Linked DNA regions of Homo sapiens. The protein of the gene in region 2 purifies or fractionates together with the protein of the main gene of each other region. This does not show direct contact. Each region holds a gene or a part of one and is shown on either strand. Other genes may lie near its edges.

What was found.
Region 1: the proteins of LRRC36 (region 2) and GOLGA3 purify together in Homo sapiens (affinity purification with mass spectrometry; one large-scale study listed by BioGRID and IntAct). This does not show direct contact.
Region 3: the proteins of LRRC36 (region 2) and ZNF548 purify together in Homo sapiens (affinity purification with mass spectrometry; one large-scale study listed by BioGRID and IntAct). This does not show direct contact.

The regions. Positions count from the first base shown.
Region 1 is NC_000012.12:132,818,724-132,822,374, forward strand, and holds part of GOLGA3 (golgin subfamily A member 3), read right to left. Parts: intron 3,589-3,651; 5' UTR 3,406-3,588; coding exon 3,273-3,405; intron 1-3,272. UniProt on the Homo sapiens protein: Golgi auto-antigen; probably involved in maintaining Golgi structure.
Region 2 is NC_000016.10:67,378,720-67,382,315, reverse strand, and holds part of LRRC36 (leucine-rich repeat-containing protein 36), read right to left. Parts: intron 890-3,596; coding exon of another isoform or gene 822-889; exon of another isoform or gene 786-821; intron 184-785; coding exon 69-183; intron 1-68.
Region 3 is NC_000019.10:57,392,782-57,396,432, reverse strand, and holds part of ZNF548 (zinc finger protein 548), read right to left. Parts: intron 2,246-3,651; coding exon 2,210-2,245; intron 1-2,209. UniProt on the Homo sapiens protein: May be involved in transcriptional regulation.

The DNA.
Region 1 (3,651 bases), on a different chromosome or scaffold from region 2:
TGGAGTCATTTCAAAGCCTCAGCTTATCCTCCAAGGCGAGGACCCTAAGGCGAAGAGGTGGATGATGTCATCACACCACCCGTGAAGCAGAGACAGCCCAGAACCGCGCTTCTGCTTGATGACAGCCTGCTGGGTAAAGGCCTGGGTTGGACCAGTGACAATTCTATACCCACGTGTTACCTCAGTTCACCCACTAAAATGATTATATACAAATTACCCACAACACAAACTAAAACATATTTCCTCATCAAATGGAACAAAGAAAGATTTCTTTCAATGAAGTGATTTTCAGTCTTTTCCCTGCCCCCTAACTGCTGACTGGTGGGTGGGCCAGTTCACAGTCAAAGAACCAAGACATGTGAGGGGGGAGGGAGGGTCCTCAGGGGGTTCTGGTCCTGGTTCCGGTGGCTCTGGAGGCCCGGCAACACCTCCGTGTCTCACAGGGGTCAGCATTCCTCGGATCCCACGTGCATGCAGGACAGCAAATTTGCTTTTTGCTCAAGCAAATTAAAAATGAGTTTCTTAGCCGGGCGCGGTGGCTCACGCCTGTAATCCCAGCACTTTGGGAAGCTGAGGCAGGTGGATCACGAGGTCAGGAGATCGAGACTATCCTGGCTAACACGGCGAAACCCCGTCTCTACTAAAAATACAAAGACTTAGCTGGGCGTGGTGGCGGGCGCCTATAGTCCCAGCTACTTGGGAGGCTGAGGCAGAAGAATGGCGTGAACCCTCGAAGTGGAGCTTGCAGTAAGCTGAGGTCGTGCCACTGCACTCCAGTCTGGGCAACAGAGCGAGACTCCGTCTCAAAAAAAGAAAAGGTTTCTTTCACTTGCAAATGTGAGTTCAAACTAACAGCAGATACTTACTGTCATGCCTCCCGAAAGAAAAACCAGAATAAAAGCAGGGGTGCCAGACAGGAAGCCAGACCACGGGCACCCGACCAACGCACTGAGACGCCTTTCATGCAAAGGACCCGTGAGCTCCACTGCTGGGAGAGGGGGAACCTTGCATTTCAGATAAAAGTTACTGGGTTAGGCCGGGCGCAGTGGCTCACACCTGTAATCCCAGCACTTTGGGAGGCCGAGGTGGAAGGATAACTCAAGGCCAGGAATTCAAGACCAGCCCGGGCAACAGCAAGACTGTTTATACAAAAAGTTTTTAAAATGAGCCAGGCAACAGGGCGCGGTGGCTCACGCCTGCAATCCCAGCACTTTGGGAGGCCAAGGTGGGGGGATCACCAGAGATTGGGAGTTCAAAACCAGCCTGATCAACATGGAAACTCCATCTCTACTAAAAATACAAAATTAGCTGGGCGTGGTGGCACATGCCTGTAATCCCAGCTACTCAGGAGGCTGAGGCAGAAGATCGCTTGAACCCGGGAGGCGGAGGTTGCCATGAGCCGAGATCGCACCATTGCACTACAGCCTGGACAACAACAGCAAAACTCCGTCTCAAAAAAAAAAAAATCAGCTAGGCGTGCTGACACGCATCGATAGTCACCGCTACCCCAGAGACCAAGGCAGGAGGATCACTTAAGCCCAGGAGTTCATGGCTGCCGTGAGCTATGATTACACCACTGCACTTCAGCCTGCTCAATGGAGCAACACCCTGACTCTAAAAACAGTAATAAAATGTTTAAAATAGAAAAAGGGGCGGAGGCTGAGATTAACCCAGCGTCTTGCTCGAGGGCACATTGCTCCTGAGCAGCAGATCTAAGAGCAGGTTCCACGGCCGCGGGTCTCAGAACTCTTGATCTTGGGCCTCTAAGTTGTTATCTGCCTCACCTGATGCTTATGTAGCAAGGACCAGCAAAGCCATCCTAAGCGCCTGAGTATCATTTTACAGGAATTAGACTGTGACTTCTGCTAGTAAATTAGCACATCTGTAGTCTACAGTTTTAAAGCACTGAACCTCCTGGCCAGGAAGAGGCATGAGAACTGAGTGAATAACTAAGTCACCCTTTCCCTCTGACACGTGAATAACCCAGGGGGCTAACATAACACTGTGCTCCGTAATCCTTAGATCTCTACGGGACGACTTCTGAATTCTAGCTATTACAAATTCAGCAACTGACCAATCAAAAAGGCAGAATTCGGCCAGGCACAGTGGCTCACTCCTGTAATCCCAGCACTTTTTGGGGCTGAGGTGGGTGGATCATTTGAGATCAGGAGTTCGAGACCAGCCTGGCCAACATGGTGAAACCCCGTCTCTACTAAAAATACAAAAAATAGCTGGGTGTGGTGGCAGGTGCCTGTAGTCCCAGCTACTCGGGAGGCTGAAGCAGGAGAATCGCTTGAACCCAGGAGGCAGAGGTTGCAGTGAGCTGAGATGGTGCCACTGCACTCCAGCCTGGGCGACAGAACAGGACACCGTCTCAAAAAAAAAAAAAAAAAAAAAAAATGGCTGGGCGCAGTGGCTCACGCCTGTAATCTCAGCACTTTGGGATGCCAAGGTGGGCGGATCACCTGAGGTTGGGAGTTCGTGGCCAGCCTGACCAACATGGAGAAACCTCATCTCTACTAAAAATACAAAAAATAGCTGGGCGTGGTAGCGCATGCCTGTAATCCCAGCTACTCGGGAGGCTGAGGCAGAAGAATTGCTTGAACCCGGGAAGTGGAGGTTGCAGTGAAACGAGATCTCGCCATTGCACTCCAGCCCGGGCACCCAGAGCAAAACTCCACGTCGAAAAAAAAAAAAGGTAGAATTTTAGGCAGGGAACATGATAAAGACCCATAGATCCCTTCAGGGAAACACTGCTGCTGCCCCACACGTTTAATGGAGTTCTGTTTAGCAGGAATGTGCCTGATCTAAAGGTGGCATCATTCAGTTACTAAAACATACTTTGGGCCGGGCACAGTGGCTCACACCTGTAATCCCAGCACTTTGAGGCTGAGGCTGAGGCGGGCGGATCACGAAGTCAGGAGATCGAGACCATCTTGGCTAACACGGTGAAACCCCGTCTCTACTAAAAATACAAAAAATTAGCCGGGCGCGGTGGCGGGCGCCTGTAATCCCAGCTACTCAGGAGGCTGGGGCAAGAGAATGGCATGAACCCGGGAGGCGGAGCTTGCAGCGAGCCGAGATCACGCCACTGCAGTCCAGCCTGGGCGAAAGAGCGAGACTCCGTCTCAAAAAAAAAAAAAAAAAAAAACAACTTTGAATTAAGTGAAAAGCTCACAGTGGTCTCAACGCCACATCCTCCCTCAACACCACGTCCTCCCTCAACACCAGGTCCTCCTGTGACCAGCACACAGAGGAACCTCACGACTTACACTGGACTTTGTCCTGCTGGTCAGGTGGCACCAGTGGGCCCGGGGGCTTCAGTGGGGCCTCGGGGAGAGACGAGGGGCCACTGTGGGATCTGTCCTCCTGGAGGCCATCTTGCTCGGCCGACGCGCCGTCCATGGTCAGGACGACACCAGCTGAGCTGACGCTGAGGGGCTACAAGTGAACCTTGGACAAGCTTGGCTTCTGCCATCAGCAACAGCCAAGAGCTCCTGGGAGGGGCCCTACTGTGTCTCCCATTTTCAGGAGAAGATCTGATGACTCACAAATGACTTGATGTCAAACCAGCTAATATCATGATACCTGACAGGAGAGAGAGACAAAATGTATTATGAAACTTGTCAGATTTCAAGTATCAATTACAAA
Region 2 (3,596 bases):
GCAAAACAAAGGAGATAAAAGGAGTAAATATCTGCTTCTAGAAGCAAGCTAGATAGACCCTCTCCTACCTCTGACTTTCATGGAGAATGGCAACTGTCTTCTCCAGCTTTTTCAGCTGGGCAAGCTCCTGGTTCAGGCAAGCCACCTGCATGGTCAGCTGTTGGTTTTTGTGCAGAAGATCATCTACAAAGGGCACAGTAGCCAGGGGTGAAAAGGATTCCAAGCTGCTAGTCTTTGAGCAGAATATAAGTATTCAGATGGACATCTTGAGAACTGGGGGCCCCATGGCACCCAACTTCACACTCCATTGCCTTACTTGGAGATAGGAGATATGGTGGCAAGAATACAGGGTTTGGCAACAGATATGAGTTAAAATTCAGCCACTTAATATTGCACGTGGGCCAGGCACGGTGGCTCACGCCTGTAATCCCAGCACTTTGGGAGGCTGAGGCGGGTGGATCACAAGGTCAGGAGTTCAGGACCAGCCTGGCCAAGATGGTGAAACCCCGTCTCTCCTAAAAATACGACAATTAGCTGGGTGTGGTGGTGGGCACCTGTAATTCCAGCTGCTCGAGAGGCTGAGGCAGAGAATCGCTTGAACCCAGGAGATGGGATGGAGGTAGCAGTGAGCACAGATTGTGCCACTGCACTCCAGCCTGGGCAACAGAGTGAGACTCCGTCTCAAAAAAAAAAATATTGCACATGTTGGTTCATTTTTCTGACTTTCATTAGAGCTAATAACCCTGCCCCTTAGCCCTGTTATGAGGATTCAATGAGACACCTACCCTCACTTAGCATAGGCAGTCAATAGATATTGGGTCTCACACCGTATTCTCCATTTTAGTTTGTTTTGTACATCCTTCACTCCCTACGTAGTATGTGAAAACATCTAGAATGGTGTCAGGCACACAGTAATAACTCAATTAATACTTGTAGAAACTGAATTTGTGGCTAAGACACTTATACCTAGCTTCCCCAATATACTACCATTACCTGCAATAATAAGGAGGTAAAAGAAGAGGAACTCCGGTTGTAATGATGCCAATCTTCTATACTTAAACTTTTTTTTTTTTTTTTTTTTTTTTCTGAGGCAGAGTTTTGTTCTTGTTGCCCAGGCTGGCTGAAGTGCAATGGCGGGATCTCAGCTCACTGCAACCTCCACCTCCTGGGTTCAAGCAATTCTCCTGCTTCAGCCTCCTGAGTAGCTGGGATTATAGGCACATGCCACCACGCCCTGCTAATTTTTGTATTTTTAGTAGAGATGGGGTTTCACCATGTTTGCCAGGCTGGTCTCAAACTCCTGACCTCAGGTGATCCACCCACCCCAGCCTCCCAAAGTGTTGGGATTACAGGCGTGAGCCACTGTGCCCAGCCTTAAACTGTAATATGCTTACAAATCACCTGGGGATCTTGCTAAAAATAGATTTTAATGCAGTAGGTCTGAGGTGAGGCCCCACTTGTTTAGCAAGCTCCCAGGTGATACTAATGTGGATCACATCTTGAGTAGGAGAGTTCTAGAAGGTGGAAAACAAGGCTGCAAAAGCTTATTTATCACCAGTAAGCCAAAATACTATACTGGGCCTCCTGGCTGAATGAAAGTAAGTATCTAGTGGACAAATACCTACTTTTAATTTCAAAGTAGGTAAGTGGAGACTGATATCTTGATTATTCGGGCCTGTGAGTATCAGATAGTGCTGAGAATTATTTATTTATTTAGTGCTGAGATTTAACAATGGAAATTCAGTGCTTCCACATCAGAACTTTGAAATCAAGTTCCTTGTATAAATCCATGTACCCATAATTTGCTTAGGGGTGCTAAGCTAGTCTGTCAAGCGCAAACTTTATCTAACATACTGGCCTAAACTATGCTGATAATAAAGTAGTACAATCAAGATTTAAAAAGGATATTATTTTTCACTTATCACAATGGCAAAATTTGAAAAAATGCCCAGTGTTGGCAGAGGGGAGTGAAAGGGGCATTCAAGTACACTGCTGAGGTGGGAGTAAACTGAAACAATTTTCTTGGGAGTGATTTATGTAACAAAAGCCTCAAAAATATCCCATCCTTTGACTCACTAATTCTACTTCTAGGACTGTCTCCTAGGAAAATAGTCTGAAATGTACACAAAGATTTCTGTACATAGACATTAATAGCAGCATTATTTATAATAGTATAAATATTAAATATTAGGACTCTCAGCTCCATCAAAAGGGAAGAAGGTTAATCTCAGAAAAGCATTTGATTCTAGGGTCTTTTCCTTCACTTCAGGTCTTTCTTTTGAATGTTTAGAAATAATTTAAAATCATTTTATTCTAAATATTATATAACCATTATAAAAACAACTATATAGAGGACAAAATAGATAAATATGGTATATTCTTGTGATACTGTAGAAATGCCTACACTATGAAATTAATAACATTAGGATGTAGAAATCAGGTCTGTGATTACTTGAGGTCAAGAGTAGGGGAAACTGACTACACGAAGGTATGAAGAAACTTTCTAGAAATGTTCTGTATTTTGATTGAGATCAAACTTAAAATGTGTGCATCTAATTATATGTAAATTATTTTTTAAAACCAGGACACAGTTTTATTATTATTATTTTTTGAGAGGGAGTCTTGCTCTGTTGCCTAGGCTGGAGTGCTCAGCTCATTGCAACCTCTGCCTCCTGGGTTCAAGCAATTCTGCTACCTCAGCCTCCCGAGTAGCTGGGATTACAGGGACTTGCCACCACGCGCAGCTAATTTTTGTATTTTTAGTAGAGACAGGGTTTCACCATGTTGGCCAGGCTGGTCTTGAACTCCTGAGCTCAAGTGATCCGCCCACGTTGGCCTCCCAAAGTGCTGGGATTACAGGAATGAGCCACTGCACCCGGCCTATTTTTATTATTATTTTTCTTGAGACAGGGTCTCTCTTTCACCCAGGCTGGATTGCAGTGGCATGATCAAGGCTTACTCTAACCTTGAACTGCTGGGCTCAAGTGATCCTTCTGCCTCAGCCTCTTTGGCTCTATAGGTGCACACCACTATGCCTGGCTAATTTCTTATTTTTTGTAAAGACGGATTCTCACTATGTTTCCCAGACTGGTCTCAACTCCTGGACTCAGTCAATCCTCCTGCTTTGTCCTCCCAAAGTGCTGGGATTGCAGGTGTGAGCCACTGCACCTGCCCAGCCACAATTGTAAATTTGGAGTTAAAAATATAGAGAGGTATGGTAGAAGAAAATATACCAAAAACACTAATGGAAGTTATTGCTGGATCATGGGGTTATATTTTCCTTGTATTTTCCAAACTTTGTATAAAGAACATGTTCTTGGTGTTATAATCACAAAAGCATGTGTCATTCTCAAAATTAATGGCAATAGTAACAACATTTGTACATGCTTTCCACTGACAAGAGCTTCATCTGGTAACTCAAGCCACCTGCATTACAATTCTCTGAGGCAAGATGATTGTTTCTGTTAACTGCCAGGAAAACTGATGACCAAGTAGGCCAAAGGCAGCCACGTGAGCTAGCATGATGAAGGTTACTAAATGGGTCATCTATAAACAAACAGTTGTCTTGAGAGGCCTCATATATCATGGCTTTCCTC
Region 3 (3,651 bases), on a different chromosome or scaffold from region 2:
CATCCAGGTGGCATGAGTGACTTTTCTCTCCATATTGACATTGGCCACCGTGTCCAGCACACAGAGGAAACAGATGGAAGATAAGGTAGAAAAGGAATGTGGGCCTCCCGTGGGGGGATCCATCCTCTCCTGCCAGCCAGTTGCCATGGAGTCACCCAGATCTTGCCTCCCAAGACAACCAAACTCAGACTCATCCTCCTCCCTTGAGCTACCAGGGCCAGGGCCTGAGGCCCTCCATTCACACTCCTCCTGCCTGCACATCACTCTTTGGACAGCACTCCAATCCCATCTCTCACACCTCCACTCCAGTCAATTCCACAGACAACTCCCAGCCCACACCACAGGCATTTCCTTCACCTCCTAACAGGCCACTCTGCACACGGAAACCAGGTGGTGCACGGCAAATACGCTCAGCATCCAATTCATTCCCAGTCCTGCCCCAGAACACCAAAGTCCCCTAGCACCGGGGGCAGCCCTAAGCCCTGGGTTGAAGGTTCCCTACACGGCCCTGTTTCTCACTTCACTGTCAGCTGCCCAAACCATGTGAGGACTTCCCATACTCTCAGCTGTGTCCTGCCTCATGGTACACTCTGTCCCATAAACAGTCAGGAAAATTGCTCTCCACCAAAACCTCATTCCAAGCCCAGCTGCACTGACCTCCATATTTCCACTCCTGATATGGTTTGGCTCTGTGTCCCCACCCAAATCTCATGTCAAATTGTAATCCCCACGTGTCAGGGGAGGGACCTGGTGGGATGTGACTGGATCATGAGGGCATATTTTCCCCTTGCCTTTCTCATAATAGTAAGTTCTCACGAGATCTGGTTGTTTAAAAGTGTTTGGCTCTTCCCCCTTCATTCTCTCCCTCTCTCCTGCTCCATCATGGGAAGATGTGCCTCGCTTCCCCTTCACCTTCCGCCAGGATTGTGTTTCCTGAGGCCTCCCAGTTATGCTTCCTGTTAAGCCTGAAGAACTGTGAGTTGGTTAAACCTCTTTTCTTCATAAATTACCCAGTCTCAGGTAGTTCTTTACAGCAGTATGGAAACGGATTAATACAACTCCCATCCTCACCTCCTCCCAACTGATAGTTAGCAACTCTCCGACCTCACCCTATTATCCCCCCTCAGCAACCCCATCATGTCCACTCTCCTTCAGAAGTCTTTCTCACTCCTATACCCCACCATCTCACATACACTCATCCCCACAAACACTCCATTCCCTCATTTGTCTAGTGACTCCTCCACCACTGCACAGCTACCCAGTAAGAGACCCAGTTCTCATGCCCCATTCCAATTCTCTGTCTTCGAACAGCACTGCCACCATAACCTAGAGATGCTGTCACCTAAACTGAATCCATGGCTTCATCCTGGTCCATACGACAGCCACCATAGTGTGGACATCTCCAACCTGAACTCCTCCATCAGGAGTCTCTGAGACATCTGTGGCTTGAACAAACACTGACTCCTCACACTCACTCTGAAAATTCCTAATACTGCTGACTTCTCCCATCTTAGCTGATGGAGCATCTATGCTTCCAAACAAAAACCATGGGGCCACTCCTGATTCCCCTTCTATCCCACCTCCCCAGCTGCCTCACTCTCTGTATCATAAAATGTGGGCAGCTCTAGTTAAAACTGAAGCTATGACCACTCTTGACAAGCCACCACCAACATCCACCTAGACTGCTGCAGGAACATCCTCTCAGATCTCCCTTCCATTACCCTCACCTCCACAGTCTGTCCTCCACTCAGAAGCCAAAGAAAGTCTCTTAAACTGGGGTCCTATCACTACCTATTTTGCTTCAAATCTTCCCCGTCTCCCACTTCCCTTAGATTACAGACCCAGGACCTAGGCTGTCATTCCAGGCCTGATGTTTGTGTGCCTCTAGCCACCTCCCATTCTGCTCCGTATTCCTACCAGATGTAACAGACATTTGCAGTTCCCTAAAAACCTAGCTCAGTCTCTCCTCCAAACATTGAAACATTCTGAATCCTGTGCCCAAGAGGCCCAAACATATCTTATCAGATCAATTCTCAAAAACGGGGACCAGTCTATGTAACCCAGCAGCCAACTTGTAATACTGAAACTAACTGGTGAAACCACTCACCCTTCAGACATAAGAGAAAGACAGGAAAAGAGGTTTTGTCACCTGCCAAAACCATCTGGGAGATAACCAGGGTGGGTGAATAGTAGGAAACACTCTACTCACCTGTGTAGGGTCCATTTCTGCCATCGCCAGGGGACCCTGAGGGAAGAGAAAGGCCGTGAGAAATTGACAGCCATGGAAGGATCCTTCAGGCTGAGATGGACCACCACCTCGTCTGCCCTGCCTGGGAGCAAACTGATCTCAATTCATTGAATAAAGTTCCTCAGGCCTCAGTGCTGCAGCTCTGTGACCATGGAAAAGAACCAAACCCACCTGAGCTTCAGTGTCTCCATCTGTAAATAGATTGCAAGAATAGCTGCCCCCTCACAGGGCTCATATTAGTATCAAACATCAGTAGCATGTACTATATATATCAGCGGCTATGGTCCAAGATTAATGGTTTTGTACATGAGTTCAATGCAAATGAAAGAGTGGGGTTTTGAAATTTTCATGTATGTTTTTAGCTTAAGATTTTAGAGGATGCGATATTAACTTTTTCCAAGGAAAGCAAACGAGATAAATTAACATCAAACCAATTATGAACCACTTTCTCCCCTCCCCTCCCCTGCCCTCCCCCCTCCCCTCCTCTGCCCTCCCCTCCCCTCCCCTCTCCTCTCCTCTATTGTGAGACAGAGTTTTGCTCTTCTTGCCCAGGCTGGAGTGCAATGGCGTGGTCTTGGCTCACTGCAACCTCCGCCTCCTGTTTTCAAGCAATTCGCCTGCCTCAGCCTCCTGAGAAGCTGGGATTACAGGCATGCGCCACCACACCCGGCTAATTTTGTATTTTTAGTAGAGACAGGGTTTCTCCATGTTGGTCAGGCTGGTCTCGAACTCCCGACCACAGGTGATCCACCCACCTCGGCCTCCCAAAGTGCTGGGATTACAGGTGTGAGCCACCACACCCGGCTCACTTTTAGAAATTTAACATAATGACTTCACTATTAACTGCCTATCTGTTTGCACACACTTAGAAAGATACTGTCTAATTGGGGTTTAAATCAATAAGTGTTTCATACATTATTAAGTTAATGAGTTATAGAGAAGGGAAGAGTAGGCAGGTCAGGTACTGGTCCTTTCTGCAACCAGGTCTACCTGCTACATAATCTTCTAAAGTGAGCTTGCCAGGAGACCTTGGCTGGAGCAGTAGATCATCCCCTGTAGCCCTGACATGTAGAGAAGGGGAAAAAGCAGTGCTCTGATCTGGAACCCAGCTACTCCACCAGCCTCAATAACATTTCTCTTGTTCAACAGAGAGTGGCCCTGAGGGTCAACCAAGCCTGCAGGTGCAGGATCGAAACCACCTCACACTTCAGCCTCCATCCCAGGCCATATGCTTACCCAGTCCAGGCCTCCCTTTTTACAGATGCAATCCAGAATCCCTGTTATGCCAGGTCTGCACCGTTCTGGACAGAGTATGATGTCTGTGGAGCCACCAATGGTCTGGCCCCCAAGTCTCAGCCCCCTGTTCTCTCAACACAGAGCCCACCTGAAATGACAACCTCAAG